Regions from separate parts of the Homo sapiens genome. Here region 2 is linked to region 1. Evidence: fine-mapped QTL for protein levels in blood plasma. Region 1 holds a variant in brackets. A gene starts in the other region. All regions are shown on one strand. Distances are between the middles of the regions.

Region 1 (9,400 bases):
TCCAGGAAAACAAGGAACCAGTGGAAGGTAGGATGCAACTGACTAGATCAAACACTGTGTGGAGGGCTTGTTGGAAGAGGTAGGTGGGATGGGCCATAGGCACAGAGGAAACTCAGCAGATGACAGAAGAAAGCAAGGCCACTACTAACTCCAGGAAAAATAAAGAGAAAACCTAAGCAGAGTTCACTACTTGACTCAGCAGAGAGTTATAGTACAAATTATAATAGAGACATCAACTTAAACAAAAATGAGGAAATTGCTCATTTGGGAAGACAGAAGAAGAGATGGTAGGGTGGGGCAGGGAGCATTGGATAAGAGCAAAACCCTCATTCTCCAGTAACATCTCACCATGTATAAAGCTGCTAAACCAAGGAGGAGCAGCAAGAGCACATAATTGAGAAGTATGGAGAGAGCTAAGACAAAAAAAAATGGGTGAAAGCTTTGAAAGAAGCTGACGCTAGGGCCGTAATGGAGGAGCAAAGGAGGGCCAGGGCTTGGTGAGTTCCACAGAGACAATAGTTTCTACAGATTCTACAGTTTCAGTATTTAAACTGTACTAACTTTGGGGGTTCTTTTTGTTTCTTTTATCTATGTATCTGTATTTCTTTGGTAACTATTAAAATAAAGAAACACACTAGAATTCCAAACTAAAAATAACAGGCTGAGGGCAGTGGCTCACACCTGTAATCCCAGCACTTTGGTAGGCTGAGGTGGGCGGATCACCTGAGGGCAGGAGTTTGAGACCAGCCTGGTGAAACCCTGTCTCTACTAAAAATACAAAAATTAGCCAGGTATGGTGGCATGTGCCTACAGTCCCAGCTACTCAGGAGGCTGAGGCAGGAGAATCACTTGTACCCAGGAAGCAGAGGTTGCAGTGAGCTGAGATCGCGCCACTGCACTTCAGCCTGGGTGACAGCGAGACTCCATCTCAAAAAAATAAATAAAAATAAATAACAAAGAAAAATACACATTCCCATCAAAAATCACCATTATCTGGGACATTGCAAAATACTTTGGACACATCATCAATTAAAGAAGGGATCAAAATGGAAACCACAAAATGTTTTAAATTGAATGATAATGAAAACACTGTCAATGAAAATTCCTGGATGTAGCTTACATGGTACGTAGAATGTTATAGCCTTCAGATCATATATCAAAAAACAAGAAAGTGACTTTTGCCAAGTGAAGAATCTACAGATGTCTTAAAGTTTCTCTTTTGCGCTGACCTGCAATTTCTAGTTTTCTTTGTTTTTTTTTTGTTTTTTTTTTTAAAGACGGAATCTCTCTCTATCGCCCAGGCTGCAGTGCAGTGTCACTACCTCGGCTCACTACAATCTCCGCCTCCCGGGTTCACACAATTCTCCTGCCTCAGCCTTCTGAGTAGCTGGGACTACAGGCGCCCGCCACCATGCCCGGCTAATTTTGTATATTTTTAGTAGAGATGGGGTTTCACCATGTTAGCCAGGATGGTCTTGATCTCCTGACCTCATGATCTGCCCAGCTCGGCCTTCCAAAGTGCTGGGATTACAGGCGTGAGCCACCGCACCCAGCTCTTTTTTTTTTTTTTTGAGACGGAATCTCTCTCCATCGCCTAGGCTGGAGTGCAGTGGTGCGATTTTGGCTCACTGCAACCTCCGCCTCCAGGGTTCAAGCAATTCTCGTGCCTAAGCCTCCGTAATAGCTGGGATTACAGGCACATGCCACCATGCCCAACTAATTATTGTATTTTTAGCAGAGACGGGGTTTCACCATGTTGGCCAGGCTGGTCTTGAACTCCTGTCCTCAGGTGATCTGCCCGCCTCGGCCTCTCAAAGTGCTGGGATCACAGGCATGAGCCACCATGCCTGGTCGGCAGTTTCTGGCTTTCTTTTTTTTTTTTTTTTTTTTTTGAGACAGAGTCTTGCTCTGTTGCCCAGGCTGGAGTGCAGTGCTGCAATCTTGGCTCACTGCAACCTCGGCCCCCCGGGTTCAAGCTATTCTCCTGCCTCAGCCTCCTGAGTAGCTGGGACTACAGGTGCCCACCACCACACCTGGCTAATTTTTTGTATGTTTAGTAGAGATGGGGTTTCACTGTGTTAGCCAGGATGGTCTCGATCTCCTGATCTCGTGATCCGCATGCCTTGGCCTCCCAAAGTGCTGAGATTACAGGCGTTAGTCACTGCACCCGGCCCATTTTCTGGCTTTCTAAGGAAGCTGCCTTCAGTTTTGCTTGCGTTTCCTGTTGTTTCTCTCAGAGCCATTCTGCCCAGGAGAGCCCTCGCCCACCATGGGATCTTCTGTGAAATCAGTTGCCTGACCTGTACCGTGCCCAGGTGGCCTCGGGTGTGTGTCAGCCTCCCGGTGGTGGTCCCAGAGCCAGGGCCTGCCTCTTGAGATCACCTGAGGTGATGCATGGGAAGTGCTGAGCAGGGCACCTGCCTCTGGGGGGCCATGGATGGTCCTGCCATTGTGGCCATTGGGAACCAGAGGGTGAGAGCAGGTGGCCAGCAGACCACCCCACTCAGAGCCACAGCCCAGCTCCTGCCCACTCCCCACAGGGACAAAGCCAGGTAGGGCAGCAATGAGGCTGCCCAGCCTTGGACAGCCTGGGCCAGGCATTGAACCATCCCGGGAGCCAGGTGTCCACCCAACCCCACCTTGGGCTCACACCCAGAGTGTGACAGGGCCTGGCCCAGGTCCCAGGCTAGGGAGACAAAGCTGGCTCTCTCGGGCTCCCTTTCCTGCAGGAGACCCCTGGCAGCCCATGCCCAGAGACACAAGGACCTTGGAGGCTGAGGGCGCAGCAGCAGGATGTTGGGCCCGAGGGAGGGAGGGGCACAGAGGCCTCGACACCCTCAGCAGCCCGTGGCCTGGCTCTGAGGACGCATCCACAGCCTGTGGACAGCCAGGGGGACACTGGTGAGGCCCAGCCTGGGGGGCCGTGTGCTGAATTGAAGAGCCAGTGTGGGCACCCAGCCCTGCCACCCTCACCCACTGAACCCTGTCCTGGGGGCATCCTGTGCAGCCCTGGATTGTGCGCTGTGCTGGTCATAGCTGCCCGGGGCTGCAGCCACACCACGCCACGCCACGCCACCCCAGTCATTCGCCGCCACCTCCCTGCGTGCCCTCGGCACTTCACTGAGCCCGGGACCCCCAGGCCAGAGATCACTCTTGACTTAGCTGAAGCGGTTGTGTGTCAAACAGTGGGGACAGAGCGAGAGCCAGGGACCCAGCCGCGGCCTGGGCATCACCAGCATCCTCCGAGGCCCTGGCTGCTGTCCTTTACCCGGCACACAACACTGAGCACCACGAGGTGGGCACAGGGGACCCAATGGGGGCAGAAGGGTGCTGTCCTTGCCCACACAAAGCTTTCAGCCAGCACTTCTCGAAGTGGGGGACCATCCCCGCAGTGCTTTCCAGGGGCCCAAGCTGTGGCACTGTTGGTTGCAATGGCAGAACCTCATAAGTCATCACAGGCACTGTGGGACCCTGGTGCCAGGACTGGTTTCCCTCAACATGCTGAGCCAGGTGGCATTACCGCCACGTGCAGACCAGAGCATGCTGAGGCTCAGGGCAGCCTGGGACCTACTGGGGCAAGCGGCTGGTCGGGGCGGGAGGTCAGGTGAGGGCAGGGTGTGTGTGAGGGCCAGACCTCGGGGGCCCAGTGGTCCCAAGGGCAGCGGGGGCTCCTTCACGCAGGTCCTACCCTTCAGTCACCCACGGCACCTGCCCGCAGCCACCTTCCCGCTACTCAGAGGGGGTGCAGCCTCCAGGCTCAGACCAAGCCATCCCAGGGGCCCAACCCCTCACCTCCTGCTCTCCGCCTCTGCATGGACGCCCCTTGCCCCCATCCTCACCCCTCCCCATCAGCAGCAGGATACAGCCCCTCCCGCTGTCTAGGGCCATGGCCCCTCAGCCACCCTTCCTGAGAGCAGGATCTGCCCCACACTGGGCTCCCGGCACCACCCTTGGCCCCCTCAGGGAACCCCCACCCACCCCGTTCTCCTGCTTAAGGGTTTGAGGGCAAAGTCCAAGACGCTGCCAGGGACCCCTGCCAGTGTTCTGCCCTCCTCAGGCCCGAGGGCTGGCCTCCCCCTCCTCCTAGTGGGACTCCCGGTCACCCCCTCCTTGTCAGGGGCTGGCTGCCTTCCCAGCAACAGGCCGTGAGCTGACCAATGGCTGGCCTGGGCCTGGTGAGGTGCAGCTGTGCTAGGCCCTACTGCTGGCGGGACACAGGTCCCCAGGCCAGGTGCCCCTTGGCACTGTGTTTGGAGGGATGGCTCCCTCTTGGCTGGGGGCACTGCCCTGAGGACCCGTGCTGTCACCCAGGCCCCACGCGCCGCCCAGAGGCCCTTGCCCCTCTCGGCTCCCGGGGTCCCATTCCAGGAATGAAACTGGGCTGGGCCAGCCACACAGTGTGGGCGCCTGTGCAGCAGGCGGAGGGGAAGCACAGGGTGGGGCCAGGACTCCGAAAGGGAAGGGAGGAAGGGCAAG[G/T]GCGGCCGCGGGCACTGGGTCCAGCCCTGCCTCAGGGCCATCCTCAGCGCAGCATCCGTCCTGGTCTGTTTCTCAGGGTGGAAGGGCAGCTGGCACTGGGGGAGATGGCACTGCCTCCACCCATCCACCCCTCTAAGGCCCCCAGAGCTTCTCCCGGGGGTCTTGGGTGACTTAGGCCCCTTCCTCTGACATCTCGGGCCTGCTGGTGCCTGCTAGTGGGGGAGTGGGGTGGGCCTGACCCCACATCCTGCTTGGCCAGGCACCCACAGGCCAAGTGACCAGCACAGCCACCCCAGGCCTTGCCATACACTGCACCACCACGGCCTTCGCTCCCTCCCAGGCCCTGCCCATCCCCTGCCAGTGTGGGAGCCCCAGGTTGCAAAGGCCCGGGGCCCCTCTCTCCTCAAGGCAGGGCCCAGGCTCCTCGTAAGCCTGAGCCACACTTGGCTTCCCGAGCAGGCCCCTCCCGCCCCTGCCGTCATTTCTGGCAGGCCCTCTGCGTGAGCTCACGCGTTACATAAGGCATGCGAGCTATGTCTTGGGGGAATGAGAAACCCCTACACAGGGCTCTATGTCCCCTCGCCCTCTCCAGTCAAGGCCACCACAAGCCAAGGGAGGTCTGGGCGTGAGAGGTGAGACCCCGTGCTCCCCCTGCCCTGGGTGGAGGAAGGGGGTGCCCTGCCACCCTGAGAACAATGGTGTGTGCAGAAGAGAAGGGACTGAAACTCTTTGAAGATGTTCCAGGATTTAGCACCCAGGGAGCGGCGGAGACTCAGCCCCACCAGCCTCCGGCACGGAGGGAGGAAAGCGTTCCCCAGGCTGCTCAGGAGAACGTTTGTTGCTGTAGTGGGCAGTCACCTTCCAACCGGGGACAGTCACCCCCCTGCTCGGGGACAGTCACCCCCCCGCTCGGGGACAGTCACCCCCCCGCTCGGGCACAGTCACCCCCCTGCTCGGGGACAGTCATCCCCCCGCTCGGGGACAGTCACCCTCCCGGAATGGGGCTTCCTTTCTCGGGGCTGGGAATCACCCTGGATCCCTCCCCACTCGGGGTGCTCTTGGGCCATCTGAGGGCTCCTGGGTCACTCTTGGGCCTTCTCAGGGTTCCTGGGTCATTCTTGGGCCATCTGAGGGTTCCTGAGCCCAATGACACTTCTGCCTAGGCTCGCGCTGCGGGAGGAAGCAGCCAGGCGAGGTCCCCTCCGTGCCCCGGTGCAGCCTGGCCTGGGAGAGAGGAGCCCCCAGCGACACCGAGAGCCAAAACAGGGCAGAGTTTCTCAGAGGTGGCACCCGGCCAGGGAGCCCCTCGCGGCTACAGGGTTTCTCCACGGACTCGGCCATCTGGGGAGAGCAGCCCAGAGCCCTCGAGCCTCCTGCTGTATTCTGTGGCCTGGGACTTGGGGGGACCCATTGAGGACACTGGGACGCAGCCAAAGGGAGGTGCAGACAGTGTGTACTGGCGTTTCCGGGGACCAAGCCCAGAAGGAGCAGGACGGCCACCTCCTGGCCTGGAGGAAAATCCTGCTTCCTGGCAAGAAAACCACCCCTAGAGGAATAGGACTGGGGTGCAGGACGCTTTCTCAGGCAACCGCCCCTTTCCTTCTCCAAAACTGGGGCAGGAAAAGAGCATTCAGGCCAGGCAGCGAAAACCCCAGCTCTGGTACCTCCCGCCCCAGCAGAGGCCGCCTGGAGGCACGGAGTTCCGGCCTGGATGAGGCCTGGGAAGCCCAGCGACTCACAGGCCACGGCCGCTTCCCCTCTCCGAGGAAGGAAAAGTCCCTGCAGCGCGGCCTCGGCTAAGGCTCCGGTGCCCAAGCAAAGGAAGGGAGCGTGCTTGCAGACGCCTCCTGCTGGGAGCCTGCCACGCCCGCCACACCCTGCGCGGGGACAAAGCTCTCCGTGGCTGTGGCAGGGACACACCGCGTGTGGGTGGCTGCAAGCCAGCAGCCCCGAGCGGCCCCTCCCGCTAGACTCCCAGCCTGGGCCCTCTGTCCTCCAGGCAACGAGAACATGGATGCCTCGCTTTTCAGAGACTCGCGTTCTTGGAACTTACACCCTTTTGGGTTTGCTATTTTTACCCACCCTGAGCCTTCCGGTCTCCATGGCGACGCCTCCAAACAGCAGATTCCAGGCGGCAATGACGTCATCTCTCCCTTTCCTGCCGCCCAGGCCTTGGAGGTACTGCTGCCTGGGGCCGGGGGTGGGGGTGGGGGGGCTGCAGGGCTTCCCTGGCCCCCTCCCATACCCACCTGGTGCTCCCCCAACCAGAGATCCAAGGCCTGTGGGCCACGGCTGCGCCTCTCCTGACTCCAGCTTGCCCGTCTGTCCTTGGGGGCAGCGTCCTTCCTTCTCTCGGCCCCTTGGAGCAGCTCTGCGGGAACCCCACAGCAGCCCAGCGGATTGAACGCAAAAGACAGCCACCCTCCTGCTCCGGATCCTGGGAGGAGGCTACACGCTGGCGCTGAGACAGCAACCTGCCTGGCCTGGGAAGCCCCCCGCAGCCCCTACATCAGAAGCTTGCTCTTGGCGCAGTGGCTCACGCCTGTAATCCCAGCACTTTGGGAGGCTGAGGCGGGCGGATCACGAGGTCAGGAGATCGAGACCAACCTGGCTAACACGGTGAAACCCTGTCGCTCCTAAAAATACAAAAAAACAAATTAGCTGGGCGTGGTGGCGGGCGCCTGTAGTCCCAGCTACTCGGGAGGCTGAGGCAGGAGAATGGTGTGAACCTGGGAGGTGGAGCTTGCAGTGAGCCGAGATCACACTACTGCACTCCAGCCTGGGCGACAAAGCAAGACTCCGTCTCAAAAAAAAAAAAAAAAAAAAGCAGCAGCTTGCTCTCGGCCAGGCACGGTGGCTCACGCCTGTAATCCCTGCACTTTGGGAGGCCGAGGCAGGTGGATCACCTGAGGTCAGGAGTTTGAGACCAGCCTGGCCAACATGATGAAACCCCGTCTCTAATAAAAATATAAAAAACTGGCCGGGCACGGTGGCTCATGCCTGTAATCCCAGCACTTTGGGAGGCCGAGGCAGGCGGATCACAAGGCCAGGAGATGGAGACCATCCTGGCTAACACAGTGAAACCCCGTCACTACTAAAAATATAACAAAAATTAGCCGGGCGTGGTGGCGGGTGCCTGTAGTCCCAAGCTACTGGGGAGGCTGAGGCAGGAGAATGGCGTGAACCTGGGAGGCGGAACTTGTAGTGAGCCCAGATTGCGCCACTGCACTTCAGCCTAGGCAACAGAGCAAGACTCTGTCTCAAAAAAAAAAAAAAAAAAAAAAAAAAAAATATATATATATATATATATATATATATATATATATAAAATTAGCCAGGCGTGGTGGCAGGTACCTGTAATCCCAGCTACTTGGGAGGCTGAGGCAGGAGAATCACTTGAACCTGAGCGGCGGAGGTTGCAGTGAGCCGAGATCGCGCGACTGCACTCCAACCAGGGCAACAAGAGCGAAACTCCGTCTCAAAAAAAAAAAAAAAAAAAAGAAAGAAAGAAAAAGAAAAGAAAAGAAACTTGCTCCCAAGAGAGGCAGTGGCATGGCGGCAGGGGCCCAAGGAGCCCACAGATGGCCAGAGTAGGGGTATGGTGTACAGCACGGTCTGCTAGGCACCCGCCGTGGTGCCCAAGGGCATCCAGCCCCTGAGAGTGAGTCTGTCAGAACACCCTGGCCCCAGGTCGCACAGCTCTAGGGCTCCAGCCCGGGCAAGACAGGCGCTGCAGGGCCCGGCCCCACACCCTGGTCCCAATCAGGCATCTGGATAGGGGCAGCAGTCGCTAAGCCCAGGCCCAGGTCCCCCGCAGCAATCGCCAGCTTGCGTCCCTGTCTGGGACCACACTTTACCCAGCTGCCTCTGCAACGCCAGCCTGCAGTCTGCCCTCAGCCCAAATTGAGGATGGGGACACCTGGGGCTGGATGGCCACTGGTGACCAAGGTTGGGTGGGCAAGGCTACCCATTCCCAGGGTCACCCTCCAGGAGAAGAGCCCCAGCCCTGGTGCATGTGTGTGCTCTGCTGTGCATGCAGAGACCCACAGAAATGCCACAAGTCTTGGCAGTGTCTTGCAAAAGGGACTAGTGCTGCCCAGAAAGCTTCACAGCCCCCGGAGGGCAGGAGGAGCCCCGAGGAGCCACCCCCACCCAGCCCCCAAGGCCCCCTTACCTGGGGGGTTGCTGGGGTCTCATTGCCGAAGCAGAGCCTGTGACTAGATCAGCCCCACCCCCACCTGGCCTCCTCCCCAAAGCAGGCGTGGAGGGTAGGAGGGCAGGGTCTGGGGTGGGGGAGGCGGCAGGCAGGGCTGTGGGCGCCGTGGGGGGCTGGAGCTCTCAGCACAGGCTGGGTGAAGGTCACAGCCACCCCCTGTCCCGCCAGCACCCGGATGGGAAAAGAGGACCCTCAGCAGGTGTCCCACTGGCCGACATCGCCACTCCCAGAAACGATACAGAAAGAAGGTGGTTTCGAGGCTCACATTCCTACCCTCCCGCTTGATTTCAGGTGTGAAGTCCCAACTCGCCTCTGTCTGACACGGGCAGGCACACTCGCAGGTCTGGGCACGAGGCAGGCAGGTGAGCCGCCCATCTCCAGAGCCCCCAAAGACCCTGTCACAGACAAGGTGCCTGGAGAGCACAGCCACAGGGCACTAGGCAGGGCCTTTTCCCCCAGCTCCCCTCAGGACCCCCCACCCTGAGGCTGCATTCCAGGGTGAGGTGCTGGGAAGAGGCCTCTCAAGAGGGGGCCCAGTGGGACAGAGGCCCCGTGAGCGTTTCAGTGCCCAGGACAGGTTCTGTGCTCCCTGGATGGAACCTGGCTGCAGCAGGGATGTGCGTCCACTGAAGCGCCTCCTCCGACAAGCTCTGTCTGGACAGAAGGCAGGAGGGAGGCTGGAAGGCTGGGAGCCTGAAGGGTCCTGGG
Region 2 (9,184 bases), 29 Mb before region 1:
TGACCCCTGGGCCAGGCACCCATGGCTGGCCATGCTTGAGGAATGTTGTTGGAATGATGTTAGATAAGTTGACTTGGTCAGTGTTAAAATTCCTCTATTGCAGATGAGGAAACTGAGGTTCAAAGAAGGGAAAAGACTTCTCCCTTGCAAAAGGGGTCAGGGATAAGATTTGAACCAAGTCTGTCAGCCACAGGCTCACAAAGCAAGACCCCTCTAAGCTCCAAACACTCACCAACGGTTACAGTTGTCCCAGTACGTTCCCAAGACTGGATAGATACGACCTCCATGCATACATCCTGTTGGAAGGGAAGAGAAGAGAAGTGGAACCAGAACCAGAGAGGATGGGCTAATTGGCCAGGTCCTTGGAGGTCAGGTACCTTGAACCTTTCCAAGATTCTCTCTCTTTCTCTCTCTCTGTCTCACACACACACACACATACCAGCTCTCACTGAAATTAAACTATAACTGAAGACATCACACACACACACACACACACACACCAGCTGTCACTAAAATTAAACTATAACTGAAGGCATCACACACACACACACACACATACCAGCTCTCACTGAAATTGAAGCCAAACTATAACTGAAGATATCACACACACACACACACACACCAGCTCTCACTGAGATTAAGCTATAACTGAAGACATCACACACACACACACCAGCTCTCACTGAAATTAAACTATAACTGAAGACATCACACACACACACACCAGCTCTCACTGAAATTAAACTATAACTGAAGACATCACACACACACACACACACCAGCTCTCACTGAGATTAAGCTATAACTGAAGACATCACACACACACACACACACACACACACCAGCTCTCACTGAAATTAAACTATAACTGAAGACATCACACACACACACACCAGCTCTCACTGAAATTAAGCTATACTGAAGACAACACACACACACACACACACCAGCTCTCACTGAAATTAAGCTATAACTGAAGACATCACACACACACACACACATACCAGCTCTCACTGAAATTAAACTATAACTGAAGACATCACACACACACACACACACACACACCAGCTGTCACTAAAATTAAACTATAACTGAAGGCATCACACACACACACACACACATACCAGCTCTCACTGAAATTGAAGCCAAACTATAACTGAAGATATCACACACACACACACACACACCAGCTCTCACTGAAATTAAGCTATAACTGAAGACATCACACACACACACACACACACACACACACACACCAGCTCTCACTGAAATTAAACTATAACTGAAGACAAATCCTGCAGGGTCACACACCAACTGCTGTTTGGGAAGTTCTTCAATGATTCCAACCTGGATTCCTCTTACTTTACTTGGATGCCAGCCACAACATTCCTGGGATCCTTTTCCATTTAAATAAGTTAGGGCTTGGAGATGGGGAGTGGGAGGAGCATGGGGAAGCCAAGGCCCAGAGAAGGTAAGCAACCGTCCTAAGATAACACAGCACTCTTGAGATGACAGCTCAGGTATGCAGTCTGCCGGCCCAAGCCCCATGGAACTGTGGGAAGGAACGCAAGTGATTCTCCTATTGGACAGGGGCAAGTGCATGGAAAAGGATGATGGTGAGGCTGAAAGCAGGAAAAGATTTGACCCATCTCCCAGGTATGAGCAGCCATCTCGGGGCACAGGATCCTAGAATCCTCAGCAAAGGCAGAAAAATGGCTAAGATGACCCTCACCAACCCATATGTGCCTTATCAGCCCAAGAGTGAGTCAGCAGGTGCGGCCAGCACCTTCCGTGTCTGGAAAAGAGACAGGATTGGGAGAAAATGTGGGAGGTTGCCCTTTCCCTGGGCCAAATTAGAATTCTAACCAAGGAGCTTCTTCAGTCTTGCTGGAGAGTAAAGTTCCCAGAGGGGCAGGGAAGAGTCCCAGATTCTACAGAGCTTCCCCTGGAAATGTCAGTGCATCCATCAGCTTTGCTCTTGAGCCTTGCTGAGTCTGAGGTGGACAAAGTGACCCACCCTCCTGGCCATCTTAGTGCCCACCTTGGATCGGGGGAAAAGGGGGTGGCACGCCGAGGCAGAAGTCCCAGAAGTCAGGGCAGCAGTCGGAGACCGTGCGGTTGCAGAAGAGGTCACAGTAACAGATGGCGCCCAGGTAGGGCAGGGCACAGTCGTCGGCACGGCCGCGGCAGCACAGGTCCTGCTCCTGGCAGTACCGGCCTCCCGCGTCCCGGATGCCCCGCAGGTGCAGACCCGGTGCTAGCTCCCGGCGCCCACGACCCTGCTGGGCACCCAGAGCCAAGTGGCCAGCCAGCGGCAGCAACAGCAGTAGCCCCAGTGGACATCGCCACATGGTGGCTCCTGGGCCCTGGGGGGCAGAGATGGTGGGCAGCAGAGACTCCCTGGAACACCAGGGATGAGTCTCCCAGTTTCCTGGAGCTGTGAGTTCAAGAGGGCCCAGCAGGGAGGGAGATCCCGATTCCTGAGTCCCCAGGCAGGACACGGGCAGAGGAGCCCCAGTGTGTGGGCCCTGGCTATAGGGGGATGGGGACTGGGCAGAAACGGAGCCCCTCCCTGACCTAGGCAGGGACCTTCAAGGACAAGGAAATGAGGGTGGTGGCATTCTTGGTGCTCCCACCCAACACTCATCCTGTGGACCCAAGGTCTTCTCTCCTGTCCTAGGTCTCTCTGCCCTCCAGCAGCCTCCATCCCTGACCTGGGTCCTTGACTTTGTGCTTTCCTGTCTCCCCCGGTCTTTTGGGTACACCTCTCTTCTGTTCCTGTGTCCCTCTGTCCCCCTCCACTGTCCCTCTCTCTGCCATCTGTCTTGGTTCCTCTACCTGCCCCCTCCCCCTGTTTCTTCTCTGTCTACACCTTCCGCCCTCTGAGCAGGGGAGCGTCCCTACCTGGTGAAGGTGTGGGCTGGGGCCCAGGCTGGCCCGCGCGCCTCCGCCTCCTGGCTCTGCGACCGCCGGACGCTCAAAGTCAAGAGAGGAGCGCGGGGCGGGGCGCTTTTTGTACCGCCCGCCCTCTGCACCGCCCCAGCAGTGGCGGAAGGGAGGGGCGCCTGGCTTGTACCTGGAGTAACTACCCCACAACTCATGGGCTTGCAGGGTGGAGAAACGACAAGCACACGATTGTCCTGGCTGGGTCTCCTGTGGCGGAAGCCGTTCCCTTAGGGGAACCCCAAGCAGGAAGGATTGCGGTTTCACACTGGGAAGGACTTCACAGTGGGCATCCCTGTGGAGCTGAGGGGCTCTGGTGGAGAAGGGGGGATATGGGCAGCCGAGCTCTGGGTTATGGACACAAGTTTGGGAAATGATGGGGAGGGCATGTGAGGCAAAATTCTGTAAGCCTCTCCTGACCCCTCGGTAATAAAAATAGCCATGCACACCCCTCTCCACTGTGCCCCCTAGGCTTGGGTGCCGCCCCCCTAGCCACCCCAGCTCCTAGGAATGATTGGAATTCCAGGAGTATGATCCTTAGGTGCCCTGGGCGGCTCATCCCTGGGAGGTGGGCAGGGTGTGGGGGTGGCCTCTGCACCCTTTGATCCCTTGTTGAGTCTGCCTTCCCTTGCCTGCTTGGGCCCCTAGACGAGCACTGCCCTCTCTAGCAAACCCAAGGGCATCCTGCTTGGCACCTGTCCCCCTCCAAGGGTCCAAAGGCAAGGGCCCTACCAGCTGGCACCCCCTGCAGAGGCCCTCCTTCCTGCCGCAGGCATAAACCTTTCTTTGCCCAGGCTGGCCTGGGACCCAAACAATGGGGCTTCTGTCCCGCCAGGTCTGCCGTCACCTTTTACCTCCCTATTGTGCAACGCCCTCTCTTCAACAGGTTGGGCCCAGGCCAGAGGTCTCTACCAGCAAAGAGGATAAAAGAGACTACACCTGGACAAACCCTCCCAGGCCCAGGCCTGAGCCTCACATGTGGCCCCGGGGAAGGCATCAGGGACTCCCTTTGCCCTCCCACTGACCTCCCTGCAAACCTCCCCCAAACCAAGGGGCATCCTCAGCTGGCCAGACCCTGGGGGAAGGGAGAGAGCCGAGGATCACCGGCACCTGTGGCTGGGTTACCCCTGCCATGGACCACTGGGTGGTGAGTCACCAAGGGGGTCCTGCCCTGGTGGTGGGGGTGGAGGGATAATATCCGGGGGCCCCAGCACTGGCACTAACACACCCAGGAGCTGCCCATCTGCTCCCTGCAGGGACCTGGGAGGACAAAGCCTAGGTGGGAAACTGAGGCTCAGAAGAATGCACTTGCCTGAGGTCGTGCAGCCAGAACACAGGCTCCCTGCCTGCCACCAGCCCACTCCTTTACCCCTAGTCACCCTTAGTCACCCACTACAGGTCTCAACGTGCTCCTGGTTGGGAAGTCTCTTTTCTTATCTAAACTCCATTCATCTTACTGCAGGACGGGCCCCTCGGTATTGGTAAATGTCATATCCTCAGGGTAAGAGATGAAAGCTGCTTTCTTTCAAAAGAGTTCGTGTCCAGAGTTCCTACTTTTATGGTACCTACTTTTTCATGGTTCTGGGGCTGGGGGCTTGTTTAGAGACATCTGGCCTCTCTTTTGCCCAAAATCACACCGCATAGGCTACCCTCGTGAGTCTGGGTGTGTTATCTCTGTGTGCATGTATGCATGTGTATATCTGAGTTGCGGTGTTTGTGGGGGTGTTTCTGCTTCTGCTTGAGTCTGTCAGTCCACATCTGATCGTCTGGGTTTTTTTTGCTTTTTGTTTTTTGTTTTTTTTTGAGACAAGGTCTCACTTTGTCACCCAGGCTGGAGTACAGTGGCGCGATCTCGACTCACTGAAGCCTTGACCTCCTGGGCTCAAGTAATCCTCCCACCTCAGCTTCCTGAGTAACTGGGACTACAGGTGCACACCGCCATGCCTGCCTGAATTTTTTTTGTATTTGTAGTAGAGATGGGGTTTCACCATGTTGCCCAGGCTGGTCTCCAACTCCTGAGCTCAAGCAATCCGCCTGCCTTGGCCTTCCGAAGTGTGTTTACCTGTCTATCTGCTATGTGCCTGTGTATCTGTGAGTCTGGATATTTTGGCTATCTGCCTGTCCTTGTCTGACTGATTGTCTGCTTGTCTATCCATTTACCTGTCCATCTGCTACATACCTGTGCATCTGTGTGTGTGTATCTGTCTGGATGTTGTCTCTGTGTCCATTATGGATCTGTCTGTCTGCCAGCGTGTGTTGTTTGCCTGCATTTGTGCACTTGTTGGCTTGTATGTCTGTGTGTGTGTCCTGCCTGTGCCTCCCTGTCTAAGAGGTGTCTGTGTATCTGTGTGGGAGTTGTGGCCATCTGCCTGTCCTTGTCTGCCTGCCTGTCTGTGCATAAGAGGCAGGGACTCAGAGCAGGGGATGGGAGCAGAGCCAGAGCCTCCCACCATCACTCAGCTTGGCACAGAGCCCGCCCCAGTGGAATTTTGTGACTCACTGGGTTCCTTGGCCGAGGAGGAAAAGGGCAGGGCCGGGGGTGCTGGACACCCCCACTTTCCTTTTCCATGACCCTTTGACCCTTTGCCTCCTAGTGACTCCTAGTGACTCATTGACTTATTATTATTTTTTTTGATGGAGTCTCGCTCTGTCGCCCAGGCTGGAGTGCAGTGGCGTGATCTCAGCTCACTGCAAGCTCTGCCTCCTGGGTTCAAGCCATTCTCCTGCCTCAGCCTCCTGAGTAGCTGGGACTACAGGCACCCACAACCAGGCCCAGCTAATTTTTTGTATTTTTTTTTTAGTAGAGATGAGGTTTCACCATGTTAGCCAGGATGGTCTCGATCTCCTGACCTTGTGATCCGCCCGCCTCAGCCTCCCAAAGTGCTGGGATTACAGGCATGAGCCACCATGCCTGGCCGACTCAATGACTTATTCTTGAGCAAAGTGGGGCCTTATCCAAGGGCCTGGGACAGAGCAGCAGAGGAGGAGACACCAGCGAGACTTCCCCCTCTGAGCCCTTCCGGCTTTTCAAGAGGCAGGTAGCCTAGGTCCCTGTGGTGGTTTTGTCCTCCCTTACTCCGGACCCCCGGCAGCGCAGCCCCTCTCTGGGCGTTGGTACCAACCTGTACCCAGATGCTCCCTGGAGGCCCTCTGGTATTCTCTTACTTTTACAGAGGGAGGTGAAGCCAGAAAGGGACAGTGACAAGCCTAAGAACACACGGCAGAGCAGAGGGCTCTCCTCTCTATGGAGTCCCAGAGCTCCCCACACCCCACAAACTTCACAACTGCTCTAAATGCTCGGAATCAGCCATTCTCCTCTGTGAGCTGAGCAGGGCTTTCTGGGAAGACAAAGACCTGTTGTCTGCTCACCTCAGGTCCCTAGCCGAGGACCTGATACTTGAGGCCTGGGAGTTCAGATGCTCAGGGCCCAAACAGCACCCCATCCAAGGCTGGGGCTCCTTGTGGTTCCCTGTGGTCAGTGGGACATGTCCAGAGCTCAGGTCAGTGCTCCCTGGGACTGCATCTGAGACCCTGTCCAGGCCTAATACTGTAGCCGGTTGGGCCATGTTGTGATATGTTGGGGCTTCCCAGGGCTCATGGACTGTTTTGTAGAAAGTCCCACATCAAGGGCTGCATGACAGTCAGAGTGTGGTGCTGTCATAGCACGCTGGAGCTTGCAGCAGACAAAATTCCAGGCCATGTGGAAGTGTGTTGCGCCACGCAATGGCATGCTTTACTATTTGATTTTCTCATTCATTCAACAAATACTTGTTAAGCATTTACGATGTGCCAGGTTCTGTGCTAGGTGCTGAGTGTACATTGTTGAACCAAACAGATGGAGTTCCTGCTATTGTGGAGTTTGCAGTCTAATGGGAAGAGAGGCCAGGCATGGCGGCTCATGCCTGTAATCCCAGCAGTTTGGGAGCCTAAGGCAGGTGGATTGCTTCAGCTCAGGGGTTTGAGATCAGCCTGGGCAACATGGTGTAACCCTGTCTCTACCAAAAATTAAAAAAATTGCCTGGGTATGGTGGCATGTACCTATGGCCCCAGCTACTCAGGAGGCTGAGGTGGGAGGATTGCTTGAGCCCAGGAGGCAGAGGTGGCAGTGAGCTGAGATTGTGCCACTGCACTCCAGCCTGGGTGACAAAGTGAGATTCCATCTCAAATAATGATGATGATAATAATAATAATAATAACAACGGGAAGATAGACAAATACATAAGCAAACCATCCCCCCGCCCCCCCACCCACAGATCAAGAAGTCATTCCAAAATGTGAAGCGTTCTGAAGATATGCACATAGCGTAAGAACCTGGTGTAATGTGCTGGTCAAGGCGGTCTCAGAGAGGAGATGACGTTTGAGCTGACACCTGAGGGATGAGAAGAAAGCAGCCATTCCCAGGGCCCAGGGGAGGCATCCCAGGAAGCCGGATCAGCATGAGCAAAAGCCCTGAGGCCTGGCACAAGTTGGTCTGCTTGAGAAGCAGGAGAGAGCCCTGAGCATCCGGAGTGCAGCAAGCGAGGTGCACAGAGGAGCAGGAAGGGGCTGGGAGAAGGCTGGGGCCGGATCATGCAGGACAGGCTGGAGGAAGGGGCTTGAATTGTCTTCTGACCACTGAGGGGATATAAACATGAGGGCAAAATCATCTGATTTCCATGTGCAAAGGCCCACTCTGGCTGCTCTAGAGAGAACAGATGATTGCAGGGTAAAAGTGGATTTAGAGAGGTCAGATGGAGGCTGGGTACGTGCCGTGTATGGTAGATAGCATGCTACCAAATACACTCACAGGTAGCCCTATTATCTCCATTTCACAGATGAGCAAGTCAAGATGCAGAAGGACTCTCTGGCTTGTCCAAGGTCACACGGCTGTTAGGAGCAGAGCAGCGTCCTGGTGCCCAAGCCCTGAGGTCCCCAGCACACTGCCTCTGCAATGGCCACAACTGTCCAAAGACTAAGCTGACTCTCACACCTGGTAGTGTCTGTGGTCATTCACTGTGGATGGAAGTGGAGAAATGCAGAAAACAGAAACACAGCTTCCCCTTTTCTGTCATATTTCTGTATCGTTGGTGTTTGGAGCCAGTTGAGCACAAAGGGCCCCTGAGTGCTGTTTCCTTGTGATATTTGGGGGTTAACAGCTTCCCCTCATCTCTTAATTACCTGCCCTCCTTCACTTCAGCTGCACATTCGTTAAAGAATGCTCTCCCAGGAGAAGAGCTTGGTGTTATCACCCACAAACATCTTAGAAAACTAATGCTATCCTTGAGTGCCTGTTTACAGAAACATTTTTACATCTCACTTGACATTTCCAGCAAATCTTGATCCTTCCAGCCAGGAATATTAATATATAGGTCTTGAAAAGTGCAAGAGGCTCTTCCATGGCTCCAAGCACATTTGACACTCTTCCTTTTCTGATCCCCAAGCAGACAGTGATGAAACCCCAATAGCTGGGCGAATACTCATCCAACAGGAAGAATCAGTTTTAAGAGCTGGGTTCTCAGGGTCAAATACTGTGGTGTGGCCTTTTGGTTGTAATGAGTTGAATGGAGGTCTCAAAAAAGATATATCCATGTTCTAATCCCCAGAACTTGTGAATGTGACCTTATTTGGAAAAAGAGTCCTTTTGGATGTAATTAAGTTAAGGATTTTGAGATAAGGAGATCATCCTGGGTTATCTGGGTGGACCCTAAATCTGTTGACAATGTCCTTATGAGAGACCCCAGAGGGCACAGACAGGAAAGGAAGAGGCAATGTGGCCCCAGAGGCTGAGATCAGAGCTCTGTGGCCACAATTCGAGGAACACCTGGAGCCACCAGAAGCTGGAGGAGGCAAGGAACAGATTCTCCCTGATCCTCTGGATACAGAGGGAGAATAGCCTGGCCGACACCTTGATTTTGGACTTCTGGCCCCCAGAACTGAGAAAATTAACTTCTGTTGTGTTAAGCAGCCACGTTTGTAGCAGTTCATCATAGCAGCCCTGGGAAAGAAATACAGTGGGCTTCCAGTTCAAGGAGGATCCACGAGGCCTGAGCTCCATCTGTCGATTGGAATCACCAAAATCAAGGTTGTGTGCGGGTAACGCCAGCACAAGCAGCTCATGCTGGCAAAAGCAGACCAAACCGGCTCACGCAACGTCAAGTCATCTTGAAGTGGTTCACGCACCACAGTGAGTGGTATTGATTGTGGTTAAGAGCCAGGTTCAAGGAGGTTTATCACTCAGTAGCCAGGTAAAGCAGGTTCCAGG

Alleles and levels. Positions count from the first base shown, and alleles are read on the strand shown. Strength reflects both the effect of a copy and how common the allele is.
For the plasma level of the protein whose gene starts at base 2,985 in region 2, allele T in region 1 goes with a lower level than allele G (weak association).

Evidence for each region. PIP is the posterior inclusion probability: the model's chance that the variant is causal. Protein levels are from antibody-based Olink assays in UK Biobank. Linkage for the fine-mapping came from a reference panel and not from the study's own genotypes, which makes the PIPs less certain.
Region 2: TINAGL1 starts here. The variant in region 1 is fine-mapped to the plasma level of the TINAGL1 protein (UK Biobank, PIP 0.99).

What each region holds. Positions count from the first base shown.
Region 1 is chr1:2,209,803-2,219,202 of GRCh38, reverse strand. LOC124903823 (a long non-coding RNA gene) reads right to left here and starts at 6,812. Exons shown (of 2, transcript XR_007065358.1): 1 at 6,726-6,812. It also overlaps a transcript of FAAP20 not described here. RefSeq lists enhancers at 6,624-7,462, 8,785-9,400. The variant G/T (reference allele first, on the strand shown) is at 4,477.
Region 2 is chr1:31,570,316-31,579,499 of GRCh38, reverse strand. TINAGL1 (tubulointerstitial nephritis antigen like 1) reads right to left here and starts at 2,985. Exons shown (of 12, transcript NM_022164.3): 1 at 2,905-2,985; 2 at 2,042-2,366; 3 at 233-296. The coding sequence starts at 2,351. LOC105378626 (a long non-coding RNA gene) reads left to right here and starts at 1,603. Exons shown (of 6, transcript NR_188671.1): 1 at 1,603-1,656; 2 at 3,830-4,090; 3 at 7,197-7,465; 4 at 7,758-9,184. RefSeq lists an enhancer at 2,454-3,174.